Linked DNA regions of Homo sapiens: region 2 is linked to region 1. The links come from fine-mapping of genetic effects on gene expression. Tissue or cell type: testis. Region 1 holds a variant in brackets; the other region holds the start of a gene. All regions are shown on one strand. Distances are from middle to middle. Region 1 overlaps TMEM233 (transmembrane protein 233). Region 2 holds the start of TMEM233 (transmembrane protein 233).

Region 1 (8,000 bases):
CTGCTTCCTTTAAACTGTGCTTTTGAAATTACCATGGTCCCCACCACTTCCTATTGTCCTATAACCAGGCTACCTCATGTATGTCCTTCCCCTGACCCCTGTACTCCTTTGATTTTGTGAACCTTAGCCCTGACTCATCACACATTTCTGTAGGATGAAACCTCACCATACCATTCCCCCGTAAATCAATCCTGGAGTTAGCCACAAAGCAAGTACCACTTACTGGCCTTTGTTACTGGGTGTACTAGCAGGAACATATTGACTTAGCGGCAGTGCAGAGTTTGGCTAAGAACACAGCCTGAAGAGCGACACTATCCTGGTTTTAAATCCTACCTTTTCCACTAACTAGCTGTGAGGCTTTGGGCAAGTCACTTTACCTCTCTGAGTCTCGGTTTCCTCATCTACAAAATAGGGATAATAATACCTATCTACCTCTTTGGGTTGCTGTGAAGACTCAATGAGGATTAATTAATGTTAAGAGCTTAGAACAGTACCTGGCATATGTCAAGGTCTATGTTAGTGTCAGCTGCTATTATTATAACCCACTTAGCTCAAACACTAATCTAGGCAGTATGCATTTTCCCAAGTTCCCAGGAGTCAAGCCAAGGCTTGGTCTCATTCCCTTAGAACATTGTCCTTTGTTTGGCTCATAAATATAAAGCCTTGAATTCTATTTAATGGCATCTTGAATTCTGAGGTCCTTTCCCAGTAACATTGATAATATTAGTAATAATGGGATTAATAAATGGTTTACATTTTTGTGCACCCACTAAAGAACAGAGACACCAACCTACACATTCTGTGGGTCATCCAGTTAACCTTTACAATAGCTTTATGAAATGGGTACTACTATTATTCTCATTTTACAGGTGAGGAAACTGAGGTTCAGGAATGTTAAACAATTGGCTGAAGGTCTCACAGTGAATAAGTGGTGACTGGGACCTGGGTCCAGGCAGTCTGGTGCCAAAACTGCACCATTAAACCCACACTCTGTGGCTCCCCTGCTCACAAGTTCACAAGCACCTTACACCTTCTCTTAAGAATATAGTCAGGTTCATTCACGTGTATTCTCCAACCATCTTCCTCTTCATGGGCCAACATCAAATTTGCCATCCTGCAGGCAAGAAACCTTGAGTTTCCTTTCATGTTTGAGTGTCCTTTTCTCTTTTATTTGGCCAAAGCCATTTAATTTTCTTTTGTGACACTTCTGTTTTGACATCTTCCCCTCTACCCAGCTGCCACTGGTTGTTCCTGGGTCTGCCTTCTCTGATAGGAAGTGGATCTACCATGACATCTGCTACTGTCTTGGTTGCCAAGGTTGGGTTGGCTGATCTGGAATGTCAAAAGAGGTCTCCTTCCTCCCTCACCCATCTGGGTGAGCCTCCTTTGTCAACCAAGAGAAAGAGGTTGACCTTCTCAGTTTGATGGGTGTAGGACTTTGGTCAAGGGTATAGGAGTAGCCATGCTGCTGTGGCAGAAAAGTGAAAGAATTTCTCAGCATTCTTATCTGTCTTACCAGAAATTACACAGCAAGACAGAGATGGATCTGGACTTGTCATTTCTGGGTCTGAGTTGCCTATCACATGACCTTGCTGTCTGTCAAACCTCTGACGGAAAGTGTTATTGAGTCTAGCAGATGGAGCCCATCTGAGCTGGTTAGAGAAATCAGAATAAATTTGTCCCAGTCCAGAGGGACAACACATCAGCAGCATCCATCTCTTCATGAGATGAGAGCTCCTTGTCAATACCAAAAATATGTAGTGACCTTTCTGCCCTTAAACTAAAACAGTTATGCTAGTTTGATGCAAGTAGGAGTTTATTTAGCAGATGATGTGCTAGGGCAGAGCAAATAGCAATCCTAAATATCCCATTTATTCTCCCACATTTCCTACCCTCTTACAGTTAGGTGGGATTACGTGACTGATTTCAGTCAATGTAAGCCTAAGCGACATTTGTCGCTAGGCAGTAAAAAGCCCATGTGGGATTCTCCAGTCTTCCTCTCCCCCGCCTTTGCCTGAGGACACCTCATGTTCTAGATCTGAAGTTGGCAAACTACAGCCCACAGACAGATGCCTGTTGTTGTAAATAAAGTTTTATTGGAACACAGCCACGCCTGTTCATTTCTATATTGTCTATGGCTGCTTTTGTGCTAAAATGGCAGAGCTAAGTAGCTGTGCCAGAGACCATGATCGGGACCATATGGCCTGCAAGGCTTAAAAGATTTACTATCTGGCCCTTTACAGACAAAGTTTGTTGACTTCTGTCCTAGATAGAGCAGCTACAAGATGGTGCAGCTTTGTATAGCGTGGGACCCTGCATGACTGTGTGGAGGAGAGACCTTCCACTGACCTATATGATCCATGTAATGGATCCATATTGTTGACCTGATCCAAAGAAGCATCCAAACCTTCTTTTTTTATAAATCACTCAGTCTGAGGTATTTCTTTATAGCAATGCAGAATGGACTAACACACTACTTTTGTGCTACAAAGACTGAGTTGAGTAGTTGGGACTATGTCCCTCTGTCCAGAGGATGTAGGGCCTGTAAGGCCAGAAATATTAACTATTTGGTCATTTACCAAAGGAGTTCACCCACTCCCGCACTAGAAGATCCACACTGTTGATATGTCCCTCTGGACTGGGACAAATTTATTCTGAGAAGAAAACATGAAAACCCTTTGGCTTGGGGTTGTTACTGGAGCATAACCTAATCTACCCTAACAGATTCCAACGGGCGTTCGAGAAAGGGCGTTTGACATGGGGAGGGATTCAAAAAGCCTACTTACTTCCTTGTGAAGTGAACTGCACAAGAAATGCCGATGATGAGAAGGCCAATGATGATGGAGGCGATGGCTACCCACTTAGCATTCCGCCCAAGCCGCCTGGCTCCTTCGTAGTCTCCATCGTTGTAGCTGTTCAGAGACTGGGGGACAGAAGGGAAGAGCTGGTGATGACAGATAACCCACAGGGAAAGGGATGGAGGTCCTCAGGCTGTCCTGATGAAAAGGTTCCAAGAGCTCTCTGGTGACTTTGCTCATCTCACTGACAGCCTGCTAAGCAAACAACACAGTCATCCCCTCCTCCAGGAATCCTTCCCTAAACTCTAAGGATGAGTTAACTGCCCCCTCTGTATTTCCTGATGACTTTTGTCTTAGCATTTACGTAACAAGATTTTGTCTCTCCCACCAGCATGTAAGTGCAACGTGGGCAGGGGTCATCGTCTGTCTTTTATCTTTTCTTTTTTTTTTTGAGACAGAGTCTCACTCTGTCACCCAGGCTGAAGTGCAGTGGCACAACCTTGGCTCATGGCAACCTCCGCCTCCCGGGTTCAAGCAATTCTCCTGCCTCAGCCTCCCAAGTAGCTGGGATTACAGGTGCCCGCCACCACGCCTGGCTAATTTTTGTATTTTTAGTAGAGACAGGGTTTTACCACATTGGCCAGGCTGGTCTCAAACTCCTGACCTCAAGTAATCCATCCACCTTGGTCTCCCAGAGTGCTGGGATTACAGGCATGAGCCACCACGCCCGGCCTTCTGTCTTGTTCGGCATACCAGTGTCCAGTGCAATACTTGCCATGTAGAAGATGCTGGATAAGTATTTGTAGCATAAAAACACAAATGAGTATGTCTGTCTTGTTCACTAGAATGGGATTTGCAAATCATGGCCCATGGGCCAAATCCAGCCTGCTGCCTGTTTTTGTAAATAAAGCTTATTTGGAACATAGTCACACTCATTTGTTTACTACTGTCTGTGGCTATTTGATATAGTTTTGTTGTAGGGCAGGTGAGCCCCAGAACTGGGGCCTAGCCTGGGAAGTTTTTTGACCTCTCTCAGGAAAGAATTTAAGAGTGAGCTGGTGGGCCGGGCGTGGTGGCTCATGCCTGTAATCCCAGCACTTTGGGAGGATGAGATGGGCAGATCACGAGGTCAGGAGATCAAGACCATCCTGGCTAACACAGTGAAACCCCGTCTCTACTAAAAATAAAAAAAAATTAGCCGGGCGTGGTGGCGGGCGCCTATAGTCCCAGCTACTTGGGAGGCTGAGGCAAGAGAATGGCGTGAATCTGGGAGGCGGAGCTTGCAGTGAGCCAAGATCGTGCCACTGCACTCCAGCCTGGGCGACTGAGCAAGACTCCATCTCAAAAAAAAAAAAAAAAAAAAAAAAAGAGTGAGCTGGTGGTAGAAGAAAGCAGCTTTAGGCCGGGCGTGCTGGCTCACGCCTGTAATCCCAGCACTTTGGGAGGTCGAGGCAGGTGGATCACCTGAGGTCAGGAGTTCAAGACCATCCTGGCCAACATGGTAAAACTCTGTCTCTACTGAAAATACAAAAAATTAGCCGGGTGTGATGGCAGGCACCTGTAATCCCAGCTACTCGGGAAGCTGAGGCAGGAGAATTGCTTGAACCTGGGAGGCAGAGGTTGCAGTGAGCTGAGATTTTTGCCATTGCACTCCAGCCTGGGCAACAAGAGTGAAACTCCGTCTCAAAAATAAAAATAAAAAAAATAAAATATAAAAGCAGCTTGATTGAGGCAGCAGCATTAGAGCCCTGGTTGAGTTACAGCTCCATGACTGCTCCTGCAGAGCAAGGCTACCCCATAGGTAGCGTGTTGAGAGCAGCAGCTCAGGGCAGTGCTGCAGTCAGATTTATACTCACTTTTAACTATATGTAAATTAAGGG[GC/C]AGGTTGTTAAGAAATTTTTAGATAAGGGGTAGTAACTTCTGGGTCGTGGCCCTGAAAAGGGGTGACAACTTCCGAGTCATTGCCCTGGAAAGGGGTGGTAGCTTCTGGGTGTTGCCATAGCAATGGTAAACTGTCATGGCACTGGTGAGCATGTCTTATGGAGAGGAGCTTTGAGTGCCTTTTCCCTGTTTCAGCCGGTCTTCAATCTGGTCTGGAGTCAAGTCCCGCCTCCTACCTCAGTTTGGATGTTTGTTCCCTCCAAATCTCATGTGTAAACGTGATCCCCAATGTTGGAGGTGGGGCCTGGTGGGAGATGTTGTGGTCAGGGGGCAGACCCTCATTAATGGCTTGGTGCCCTCCCTGCAGTAATGAGTTCTCACTCTGTTAGTTCATGTGTGAGCTGGTTGTTTAAAAGAGCCTGGCATCGTTCTCTTGCTCTCTCTCTCTGTCTTGCCACATGACACAATTGTTTTCCCCTTGCTTTCCACAATGAGTAAAGGCTTCCTGAGTCCTCACCGGAAGAAGATACTGGCGCCATGTTTGTTTAGCCTGCAGAACCATGCACCAAACAAACCTCCTTTCTTTATAAATCATTCAGTGTTAGGTATTTCTTTATAGCAGTGCAAAATGGACTGACACACTACTTTTGTGCTACAAAGACAGAGTTGAGTAGTTGGGACTTTGCCTCTCTGTCCAGAGAATGTAGGGCCTGCAAGGCCAAAAATATTTACTATTTGGTCATTTACCAAAGAAGTTCGCCCACTCCTGCACTAGAAGGTCAATCCATGAGGTCAGGGACCTTGGCTGAATTTTTCATCTCCATGCCCAAGCCACGGCTGTCATTCCCAGCTGTTAAAATGTTGAAATACTCTGTACTCACTGATAAATAGCAGCTACTCTGAAGCTTGTCCGCCTTCCCCAATATCCCAGCCATCCCACTTGCTCCTCTGCCTTTTCCCCGGTTTCCCCATGATCCAGCAACTTAAGGGTTATTGGGCTCAGCAGAGCATCTTCTCTGATTCTGTGCTCATGCCAAACTTGTTAAATATTTAAATATCATCCTTGTTTCTAGTACTTAGAGTGGTGTCTGGCACATTGTTGGAGCTCAAGAAATATGTTATTGACTGAATGAGTGCATGAATATTTCTGTTTCCCCACAGAATGTGAAGTTTTTGAGGGCATCTTTGAGGTCTGCAGGACATAGTACACTGCCAGGCAAAGAAGAGGTATTCAGAGACTGCTTGCTGCTGAAATGAAGGCCAGATACTGTTCTTCTCCCTTTAATAATAAGAGAATCTTGACCAAATGACATCATGTGCCTTCTGATAAAATACCCTAGCAAGGACATTTTACCTGTGTAGTTTTCTTTTCTTTTCTTTTTTCTCTTCTCTTCTCTTCTCTTCTCTTCTCTTCTCTTCTCTTCTCTTCTCTTCTCTTCTCCCTTCTCCCTTCTCCCTTCTCCTCCTCCTCCTCCTCCTCCTCCTTTTTCTTCTTTTTTTTTTTTTTCCGGAGACGGAGTCTTGCTTTGTTTCCCAGGCTGGAGTGCAGTGACGTGATCTCAGCTCACTGCAACCTCTGCCTCCTGGGTTCAAGCCATTCTCCCGCCTCAGCCTCCTGAGTAGCTGAGACTAAAGGTGCCTGCCACCACGCGTGGCAAATTTTTGTATTTTTAGCAGAGAGAGTTTCACCATGTTGGCCAGGCTGGTCTCGAACTTCCAGCCTCAAGCAATCCACTTGCCTCGGCCTCTCAGAGTGTTGGGATTACAGGCATGAGCCACTGCACCTGGCCCTATGTAGTTTTCTCAATATACCTAGCTTTTTTTAATTAAGAGGGAATAATAGGGTAAATTCTATTTGAGCAACTTTCTGCAAGACAAATGGCTTGAAATTATTTTTAAAAAGTCAATGTCGTGAAAGACATGCACACCCACCCACCCAAACACATCAGGAGACTCTCCTAGATTAAAGAAAACTAGATGAACCTAACAATTATATGCAATGTATGATCCTTGATCGTGTCTAGGATTAATAAATAAGTAGCAATTACAGATATCTTCGGGATAATTGGGGAAATTCGAGTGTAGAGTAAATGTTAGATAATAATAATGTTAAATTTCTTGAGTGTGATATTTGTATTTTAGTTACACAAGAGAATTTTTTTTTCTACAGAAGATACAGGCTGCATTATCTAGAACTGATATTATTGCAACCTGTACCTAAATTTTCAGCAAAATAAGAATAAAAATGGCAAAAAATGTTAACTATTGATGCAGTTTGGTGATTATATAGGTCATTGTGTTATTTGCTCACTTATATTTGAGGCCTGCAATTTTTCAAAATAAAAAGAACACACAGTTTTGAAAAATAAGCTCTCTTTATCATCCCATGGCTGAGAGTCACCCAACAGTTGTGCTGTAGCCCAAAGAAGACTGGAAATATTTATTTAAAAGTTATGTATGCGCACACCTGTAGTCTAAGTTTCTCAGGAGGCTGAGGTGGCAGGATCACCTGAGCCCACGAGTTTGAGGCTGCAGTGAGCTATGATCGTGCCACTGCACTCCAGCCTGGATGACAGAGTGAGACCTTGTATCAAAGGAAAAAAAAAAAAAAAGAAGAAGTTATGTACAGAAGGACTCCGTCAGTGCTGTGAAATTACAGATTTCACTGAGAACCTCTTCCTTGATTCTGAAATCACAGCACTTCAGTAATAATTGCTCCTCTTCCTGGACTATTAAGGGGGATTAGACATATGCAGACAATTACAAGCCAGAGAAATACCCAGTATACCACAGAGCTTTCTGCTTCCGGAACCTTCCATTAATTCTTGGATCTGGGCCACCTTAGTCAGCAACAGGTGGGAAGACTCAACAATGAAGAGGAATTGCTTTTAGGCCTCTTGTGTGAATGAGAGAGCGAGAACTAAAAACAATGTTAGGGACTTCCAGCAAGGTGAGTTCCTGAATTCTAAGTCACGAATTCTGGAGTTCTCCAGCTTGGGTGTTCATTAGAACCACCTGGGTAGTAAAAAAAAAATACAGAGAACCAGGCTCTATCATGGAGAGATTCTGATTTAACTGATGTGGGGACCAGGTGGCACATGTTTTTTGTGTGTGATTTTTTTGTTGTGGTAAAATATGCCTACAATTTAATCTTTTAATCATTTTTAAGTATACTGTTTAGTGGCATTATGTACATTCGCATTGCTGTGCAACCATGACCCACCATCTATCTCTGGAATTTTCATCTTCCCCAATGGAAACTCCATACCTGTAAAATACTCACTCCCATTCATCCTCTCCCCAGCCCCTGACAACCACAAT
Region 2 (8,464 bases), 35 kb after region 1:
GGCTTGGTGTAATAAATATTTAAGCATTGATTGTTTTGAGATTGTTGGCTCTTTTTTTTTTTACCATTCTGGAAACTAATTATTTTGAGCCTTGTCAGTATGTTCCACACATCCATGTTTATATCAATTTGCATCATCCTACAGTGCTTCTTCATTGGGATGGTCTTGGTATTGGGAATGTGCCCATTCTTCACTGGGGGACAGCCCCTAGCATGGCAGACATTAGTACTTCGGCTTTTTCCACCAAATGCCAGTAACACCCCAAATCATTGAGGGCACCACAAATCATAAATTACAGAGAAGTGAGAGTTGAAAATTGCCAGGACTGAACATCACAAGAGACCCTAGGGGAAGCAAACGCCTGGCAGAATTGGTCTCCCACCTTTCTACTGCACATCCTTCCTCTTCCTCTTTGTCCTTTGTCCTTTGGAGTCCTTGTGATGAAACTGATCAAGTCCAGAGCTGCACTATATATCAATGGGAAAAGACTTCCAGTGCAACAGGAAGGGTGTAGGACACACTGTTTAGAATTTCTGTTTGTTTTTATATGTAACATGATATCTCCAGGTTCCAAATCTATACATCTGTCTGACAATTATTGCATGTACCTAGCATAGTGCTAAGAACTAGAATGCTTTGTTTTGTTTCATCCTTACAACAGTTTTGCTCAACTTAAAACAGCTTTCACATTCCCATTTTATAGATGAAGAAACCAAGGCTTTAAAAAGGTACAAAACTTGGCCGGGCGCAGTGGCTCACCCATGTAATCCCAGCACTCTGGGAGGCTGAGGCGGGCAGATCACTTGAGGTCAGGAGTTTGAGATCAGCCTGGGCAACATGGTCAAACCCTGTCTCTACTAAAAATACAAAAATTAGTCGGGCGTGGTGGCCGGCGTCTGTAGTCCCAGCTGGTTGGGGTGGCTGGGGTGGAAGGATCGCTTGAACCCGGGAGGTGGAGGTTGCAGTGAGCCGAGATTGTGCCACTGCACTCCAGCCTGGGTGACAGAGCAAGACTCCGTCTCAAAAAAAAAAAAAAAAAAAAAAGATACAAACTTGTCCATAGTAAACTGTCTCCAGTGGGGGAGGGAATGGGGAAGAGGGGATTAGAAAAGGAAGTTTCAATTCAAAGCATGTGCAAACCTCATCTCCCAGGGCATACCAAGCAGCATCATTAATATCTGACCTGTCACTACCATCTGGAGTGCCAGCTCATTTCAGACCAATGAGGGAAAAAGCCTTTGCAGGCAGTTTTCTAAGTGGCACTGGGAAAGGAGTGAATTGGCTGCTTCATTAATAAAGCAGGATAGAATGTGGGCACCAGTGCCAGCCAGACAGTCTGCTGCTGCCTGGAGAATTTGGCTGCAGCATTGTTTCCAGACTCTCGGCAAAAAAAGTCAAGACCGGATATATGGGGAGAGGAAGGAAGGGAGGAAATTGGCTGGTTGGTCGGAAGGAACCGGATGCGACGGCTTCCGGGCCTCCAGGATGGGAAAAAAAGGTTAATGATTCATCCACACCATTCATTCATGCATGCATTCATTTCATGATACTTATTAAGCATCTACCACGTGCCACATTTTCTTCTAGATGCTGAAGATACAGGAACCAACAAATATTCCTGCCCTTATGGAGCTTATATTCTAATGAGAGGGACACAGACTGTAAACATACAAATAATTAAAATACTATATCAGATGGAGAGAAGTAATTTGGTCAAAAGGTAGCAGGGAAGGAAGAACAGAGCTTGCGCGGGGTGGGTGGATGGGGGTCCTGATTTTAAACAGTAATCACAGAAGGCCTCATGAAGTGACATTTGAGTAAAGATTTTGTAAAGATACCGTGCTGGTCACTGTTCTAAGCACTTTACAATTATTTATGTCATGAATGCTCCCAACAACCCCAAGAAACATGGCTATGATTATTCTGGTTTTACAAAGAGACTGAGGTTCAGAGATGCAGTGACTTCAGAGATCACACAGCTAGAAAGTGGGAGAATTGGGATTTGAATACAGACTTGTCTGAACTTCAGCGGCTGCACGCTTTCATATCGGTGCAGACGCTGTCCACAAACCGGGTTTGGGAAAGGGCAAGTTACGGGTGCAAATGGAGCCTTGCAGGTGCCCACGAATCGAATATGGTGCCACCACCCGTGGGCAAGTGTGGGCGGACTTGATGGGGGACGGGTGGCTAGCGATTTTCACAGCGCTGAATCAGGGCTCTGCGTCTGTGGCCGGGGAGTTCCGTGGCCCAGCTGCAGGCGAGGTGAGCCGGTGGGGGAGGGAGCGCAACTGCAAGGGTTGTCCCGGGACAGTGCCGGTACGAACCTCACCCCGCCGCCACCCCCGGGCCAGCTGCTGCAGTCAATAAGGCGAGGGCCTAGCAGGCGCTCGTCGCCCTCCTGGTGGGGTTCGCTCGGGTGTTCCTACCAGGGTTGAAGAGGGCTAGGGAGCTGAGCTCCGGAAGGGCGGACTAGAGGCCCCAGCGGCCACTCCTAGAGAGGCGGGCAGCTCGGGAGGTCTGAGCGCAGAGGGCGGGCGGAGCCGCACGTTGCGTGGAATCCCCTAGTTCATTCCCGGGAGAGCCCCGGGCGCAGGACAGAGCGGTGGAGGGGCGCCTGGGAGCTCTGGGGGACACCAAGAGAAGAGAGGTTAGGGCCAGTGCGCAGCAAACGGGGAGGAACTACGACGCGCTGGGTAGAAAGAGTAAGAGAGGCGCACCCACTTTGCTGGTGAGGGGGGCACACGGGGAGCCTAAGAAAGGCCTAAAGAGGTAGTGGGTGTGAGCCAGCCTCGGGCGCGTTAAAAAGGGGGCGCCGGAGGGAGGCAAGGAGAGGAAGTTGGGTGTAGGAAGAAGCGAGAGGAAACTGTTGCCTGGACAGAGCGTGCCGTGCCAAAGCGCGGAAACGGGATCAAGGAGGGGGCATCAGGAATCGCCTGGGGACCCCCCGGAGAGTGGCGGAAGCGGTGCCCTTGGGCGCAGCAAAGAGAGAAGGGAGCACAGGCTGAGATAGAGACAGTCCTGGGCGCTGGAGAGCAGGAGCCCCCGGAGCGGCAGGGAAAGGAACGTAGAGCCTGCATGCTCGGGGTATGAGCTTACTGCGCTCGCTAGGGTGGCGCGCACTGGGGCTCTAGAAAAGAGGGTTGAGAAGCCCCGGGCAAGTGCCTAGGAAGGTCAGAGGAGTCAGCAAAGTCCACGGAAGAACTTCCCCGGGTTGGAGAGGAAACGCACCCTGGGAGCTGGAAAGAAGAGGAAAGCTAGCCTGGGGGAAGCTTGATCAGGGCTCTGAGTACCACGAGGAGTGCAGAGGAGGTGCTGATGATTGCGGGGAGAGCTCTGAGAGCCCGAGAAAGGTGAGGAGGAGGTGCGAGGACAAAGAACACCTAGCGCGGGCCGGGCCGTGAGGAAGGGAGCCGCAGAGAGCGCGCGGACTCCCCTGCAGGGGCTCAAAGCCGCCCGGGTCTCTCCTCCCAGGCTGCCTCTGGCCGTGATTCACTCACCATGATGGAAAAGACCAAAGCCACGATGTTGATGGGGTACGCAGGGCAAAAACACGAGACGATGGTGAGCCACAGGTAGTTCTTGGGCATGGGCACGTCCTCCTCGGTCTTGTCATCTTCAGTGTTGGCCTCGGGACTGCTGTCCAAAGCCCTCTTGAAGTCCGGGCTAGGGGCGTACTGAGACATGGGCGAGGCCGGCGGCGCCGGGAGGGCGGAGGAGCGCACGGTCTGTGTGGTCTGGGGCTCTGGCCGCCGGCTTGTGGCGAGGCTCTGAAAAGCCAGCGGCTCGGGGCTCAAGGGAGACGTGACCTCACCCCTTCTGCGTCCTCTGCCAGCACCCGCCCGGGCTCAGGGACCCTGGCCAAGAGCCTCCCCACAAGGAGGAAGGGAGGGAGAAAAGGAGTGAGGGGAGGCGGGGAGGACAGCGGGAGCGTCAGCCTGAGGAACAGGGAACAGGCAGATGAAGGCACCCCACTCCCTGAGATCGTCGGAGGGACGCACAGACTCACACTGAGAAGTCTGGAATAAAAGGAGGCTCAGGGAAGGAGGACGCAAAGGCCCATTAAGTTCCAAATTGGCCAGCCCGTGGGCTGAAGATGACCAGCTCATTTTTAAAAGCCACTTAATTCTAATACATTTAGATGGGACAGGACCAACCCTATCCAGTTGGCAACAGACTCACTACTTCCTCTTGACTTCAACGTTTTACCTTAACTGTCTGGTGCCTGGGCATTTGATTTGTCTCCTGTGCCTCAGACCTTGAACACTGAGCCCCAGGAATTTCTCCTCCCCCCGACCCCCTCCCCCAGGTGGGGTGGGAACCAGGTGCCCAGCTTTGGCCTCAAAGCTTTCCACATTCTACTTGGGGCTCAAGAGACTGGAGTCCAGTATAGTCAGTCAGTGGGCACTGCCCGGTCCATGCCCGTCCAGGTGCCCTCCCCAGTGTGGAAACAAGGAATTCTTCTTTCCACTTTTCCACCTGCAGGACCCCTGGGGAGAAATGCAGGTAGATCAGGCTGGCCTAGGCAACCTAGATGGATGAGTGGGCTGGGAAGAAGAACAAGGTATCCACTTTGGGGACTAGTGTGAGAAAAGCAATTGTATCAGTGTCTAAGCTATTCATGAGAGGGCCGTATGGACCAGAACTGAAGCTTGAATCCAGACAGAACTAGGAAATTGTCACTTCAGGAAAGCCCCTTCATCTTGCTAAGCCCCTATTTCTCCATCTGAAAAAGGGGAAATAATAGTCCCTGCCTCATAAAGTCGTAGTGACTCTTCTATGAGATGGTACATTATCCAGGTCAATCCATGTGCTCAATAAATATTAGCTATTATTAGCATACTATTTCTCCTTATATTCTGAAACATATAGTGCATTATACAGTATCCTAAACTTGATATCCCTTGCTAATATTTCACCAAAAATCCAGGTATTCTGAGCTGCAGGACCACAAAGAAATGAAAATAATTTGATCATGCAGTGTCAAAAGCAATTGCTCACATCATCATACTTGAAACTATTAATCATCTTCTTGGCTTTCTCAGAATATAAGCTGATTGCCTGGGAGATTCTCACTTATCTCATGAGCCATACTTATTTTGTTATCTGCCTCCCTCATTGGACTGCACACTCCCCGAGAGAAGGGGTCATCTGGCTCATCTTTGTGTCAGCATCTGGCACAGTTCCTGGTACAAGGGAGGTGCTTAGTATAGCTTGCTGGGTGAACACACAAAGATGAAATAGTACATTCTCCGCCATGCCTTCTTTCTCATTTTGATGGATTAATAAAATGGGAGTAACTAAAAGATTAGATTCATCTACTGAATTCTCAACCAAGTCTTTGCATTGGCTGTTCCCTCTGCCTCGGCTGTTTTTCCCTGGCTGTCACATGGCTCCTCCTTCTTTTTTTTTTTACTTTGAGTTGGAGTCTCACTCTGTCACCCAGGCTGGAGTGCAGTGGTGTGATCTCGGCTCACTGCAACCTCCACCTCCTGGGTTCAAGCAATTCTCTGCCTCAGCCTCCCGAGTAGCTGGGATTACAGGTGTCTGCCACCACGCCCAGCTAATTTTTGTATTTTTAGTAGACACAGGGTTTCACCATCTTGGCCAGGCTGGTCTTGAACTCCTGACCTCATGATCCACCCGCTTTGGCCTCCCAAAGTGCTGGGAGGCTCCTCCTTCTTATTCCTCAGGTGACAGGTCAAGTCACTTCCTCAAAGAGAGGTCTTCTTGTAGATTATCTAGTGTAGGTCTCCATCCTTATTTTATTCTTGCCAGTTTATTATTTTTTGTGTGTGTAGCGTGTCACAATTGTAATTTATTTCTTTACTTGTTCACTGTTTGTTCTATCTCTAGACTATAGCCTGTCCAACCTGTTCAGAACTATATTTCCAGCACTTAAGAATTGTCCTGGTGCATAGTAGGAATGCAAGAAATGTTTCTTGAATGAATTGACCAAAATTACCTGGATGTATTGAAAAAAATGATTTTCAGGTTTTGATCAAGACCTACTTGGATTAGAATTTCTCAGGTAGCACCCCAGAAATCTGTACTTTTTTTTTTTTTTTTTTTGAGATGGAGTCTCACTCTGTCACCCAGGCTGGAGTGCAGTGGTGCGATCTCGGCTCACTGCAAGCTCTGCCTCCCAGGTTCATGCCATTCTCCTGCCTCAGTCTCCCGAGTAGCTGGGACTACAGGCACCCACCACCACGCCTGGCTAATTTTTTTGTATTTTTAGTAGAGACGGGGTTTCACCGTGTTAGCCAGGATGGTCTCCATCACCTGCCCCTGTGATCTGCCTGCCTCGGCCTCCCAAAGTGCTGGGATTATAGGCATGAGCCATCACGCCTGGCCAGAAATCTGTACTTTTAATGCCTGAGAAAACTGTATTTTTAGAATACTCCCTGGTGATTCTGATGCAACTGAGCAATTTCTCAGATCCCAGTTCTGTCTCTAATTCTTAGGACACAGTCCAGGATCTTTAGCTTGGAAATCCTCTCAGGTGTCCCAAACTCAATGTGTCAAAGAGGAACTCATTGTCTTCCCTAAGAACTTGCTTCTCAAGGCTTGGTCTTTGGTCAATGAACACTGCTCACTTTTCCAATCTCTTCTGCCAAGTATCTCCTTTCTTATTTATTTATTTATTTACTATTTATTTTTTAGAGACAGCCTTGCTCTGTCACCCAGGCTGGAGTGCAGTTGTGCAATCATAGCTCTCTGCAACGTCGAGCTCCTGGCCTCAAGCGATCCTCCCGCCTCAGCCTCCCAAAGTGCTGGGATTACAGGCATGCACCACCATGCCCAGAATTCTCTCCTTTCTTACTGCACTTCAATTACATAGACATTTTTCCCCGTTTCTCTAACATACCTAACCTTTTCCCACCCCAAAGTCTCTGTACCTACTGTTCTTTCCTCCTGGAATGCTTCCTCTCCTCTCTAACTATTGGTTCCTTCTCATCTTCCAGGACCCACTAACTCACATGTTACCGCCTGACAGAGGCCTTCCCTGACCATCATATCTAAAGTGGACCCCATCCTCTTATTCTCCATCCCATTACCTTGTTTATTTTCTATGTCAGACATGGTCTTTTTTATTTATTTGTCTTCTTATTTACTGTCTTTCCCACTAGAAAGGAAGCTCCACAAGGGCAGATATTTTTTTCCATTTTGTTTGCTGTGTTATCCCAAACACCCAGAACTGTGCCTGGCCATTAGCAGGTGCTCAACAGATAATTCATTGAATGAATAAATTGTGAATTTAGTCCTCCAAGTTAGGTACTTGGCAGCATTCTTCTTCTCTTTCCTTCAGCCTCTCCATGAATTATTCATCAAACTATTGATTCATTCTCAAATGTGACTCTTCATTCCATGTCTTCTTTTTCCCATCCTCCTGGGCTTCCAATTCTGGCTCTTATTCACAATGAAAAAGTGCTCTCTGAACCATATTTGTGATCTGAGCCTAATTTATTTTAAAAATATTTGTATTTTTATTTTTCCCCCTTCTTTTCACAGGTGTTGATGAGGCTAGTTAATTTCGTTGGTGCCAGTAGCCCAAGGTTTGGGTACCAAATGAAATTTTGCTTTTCAAAGTTTTGAACTATATTGTTCACTGTAACCCACTAGTGTCATCTAGGGAAAGCCAAAAGAAGGGATTGTTGACTCATTGTGGACTGTTTCTTCTGCCAGGAAAACAACTGCTTAACATGAGCCGAGCACTCTAGAATCGCCAAACATTGACCGAGCACCACTGTTGCACTAAGTGCATTCCCTGTGTGTATCATCTCATTTAATTCCTACAGCAAATTTTCTGAGGGAGGTGATGAGGTTTTCTTTTTCCCAAATGAGGAAACCTAGGAACAGATAGGTAAAGGGACTTGTGTAAAGTCTTCTGGCTAAGAGGAGGTGCCAGAATTTGAACTCGGTCTGAGATATTTGTTCAGCTGGCAGGTCCAGGCCAGAAAGTTAAATGGATATCTCTGAAGTTCATTGGAGTTATTATGCTCTGCTCAGGGAAGATGGATTAATAGCTTGTTGACTGGTCTAAGATGTAGCAGTGAAATTGCCATCACTTGAAACTTTTCAAATTAAATTGAAAAGAAAGTGCCTACACCAGAAAATGTAATGTATATGGTGCTGATTCTTGAGGGATGCATTAGATCACTCAGTGGGGGTTTCCAGCTCTAATTTCCTGAGCTTCACTAATTTTCTCTTGAGAGGTCAGTTTATTGTTCTTGGATGAACCCTACTGGCTGATTGCTTAATAATGTGGCAATACCTACCCTCTTTCAAATGAGACAGAAGAGAAAGCAACTTTCTAATAGCCAGCCTAGGAGAGGGGAAAGGCTTACTGTAGCTTTCTGGATTCTAGTGTAGCAACTTGCCTTTTTGATCTTTGAAACAAGTTTATTTCCAAATGTAAAAGTAATACGTATTCATTTAAGAAAATTGAGAAAATGAAGAAAAACAT

What was found.
Region 2: TMEM233 starts here. The variant in region 1 is fine-mapped to the expression of TMEM233 in testis (GTEx, PIP 0.91).

The regions. Positions count from the first base shown.
Region 1 is chr12:119,624,659-119,632,658 of GRCh38, reverse strand. TMEM233 (transmembrane protein 233) reads right to left here. Exons shown (of 3, transcript NM_001136534.3): 2 at 2,787-2,923. All of the region lies in intron 1 of PRKAB1-AS1 (PRKAB1, TMEM233 and CCDC60 antisense RNA 1), which reads left to right. It also overlaps the pseudogene RN7SKP197. Among named protein-coding and RNA genes, the nearest start is that of TMEM233, 35 kb to the right of the region's middle. The variant GC/C (reference allele first, on the strand shown) is at 4,679.
Region 2 is chr12:119,589,068-119,597,531 of GRCh38, reverse strand. TMEM233 (transmembrane protein 233) reads right to left here and starts at 3,758. Exons shown (of 3, transcript NM_001136534.3): 1 at 3,498-3,758. The coding sequence starts at 3,683. The region is part of intron 1 of PRKAB1-AS1 (PRKAB1, TMEM233 and CCDC60 antisense RNA 1); the gene reads left to right. RefSeq lists an enhancer at 3,197-3,770.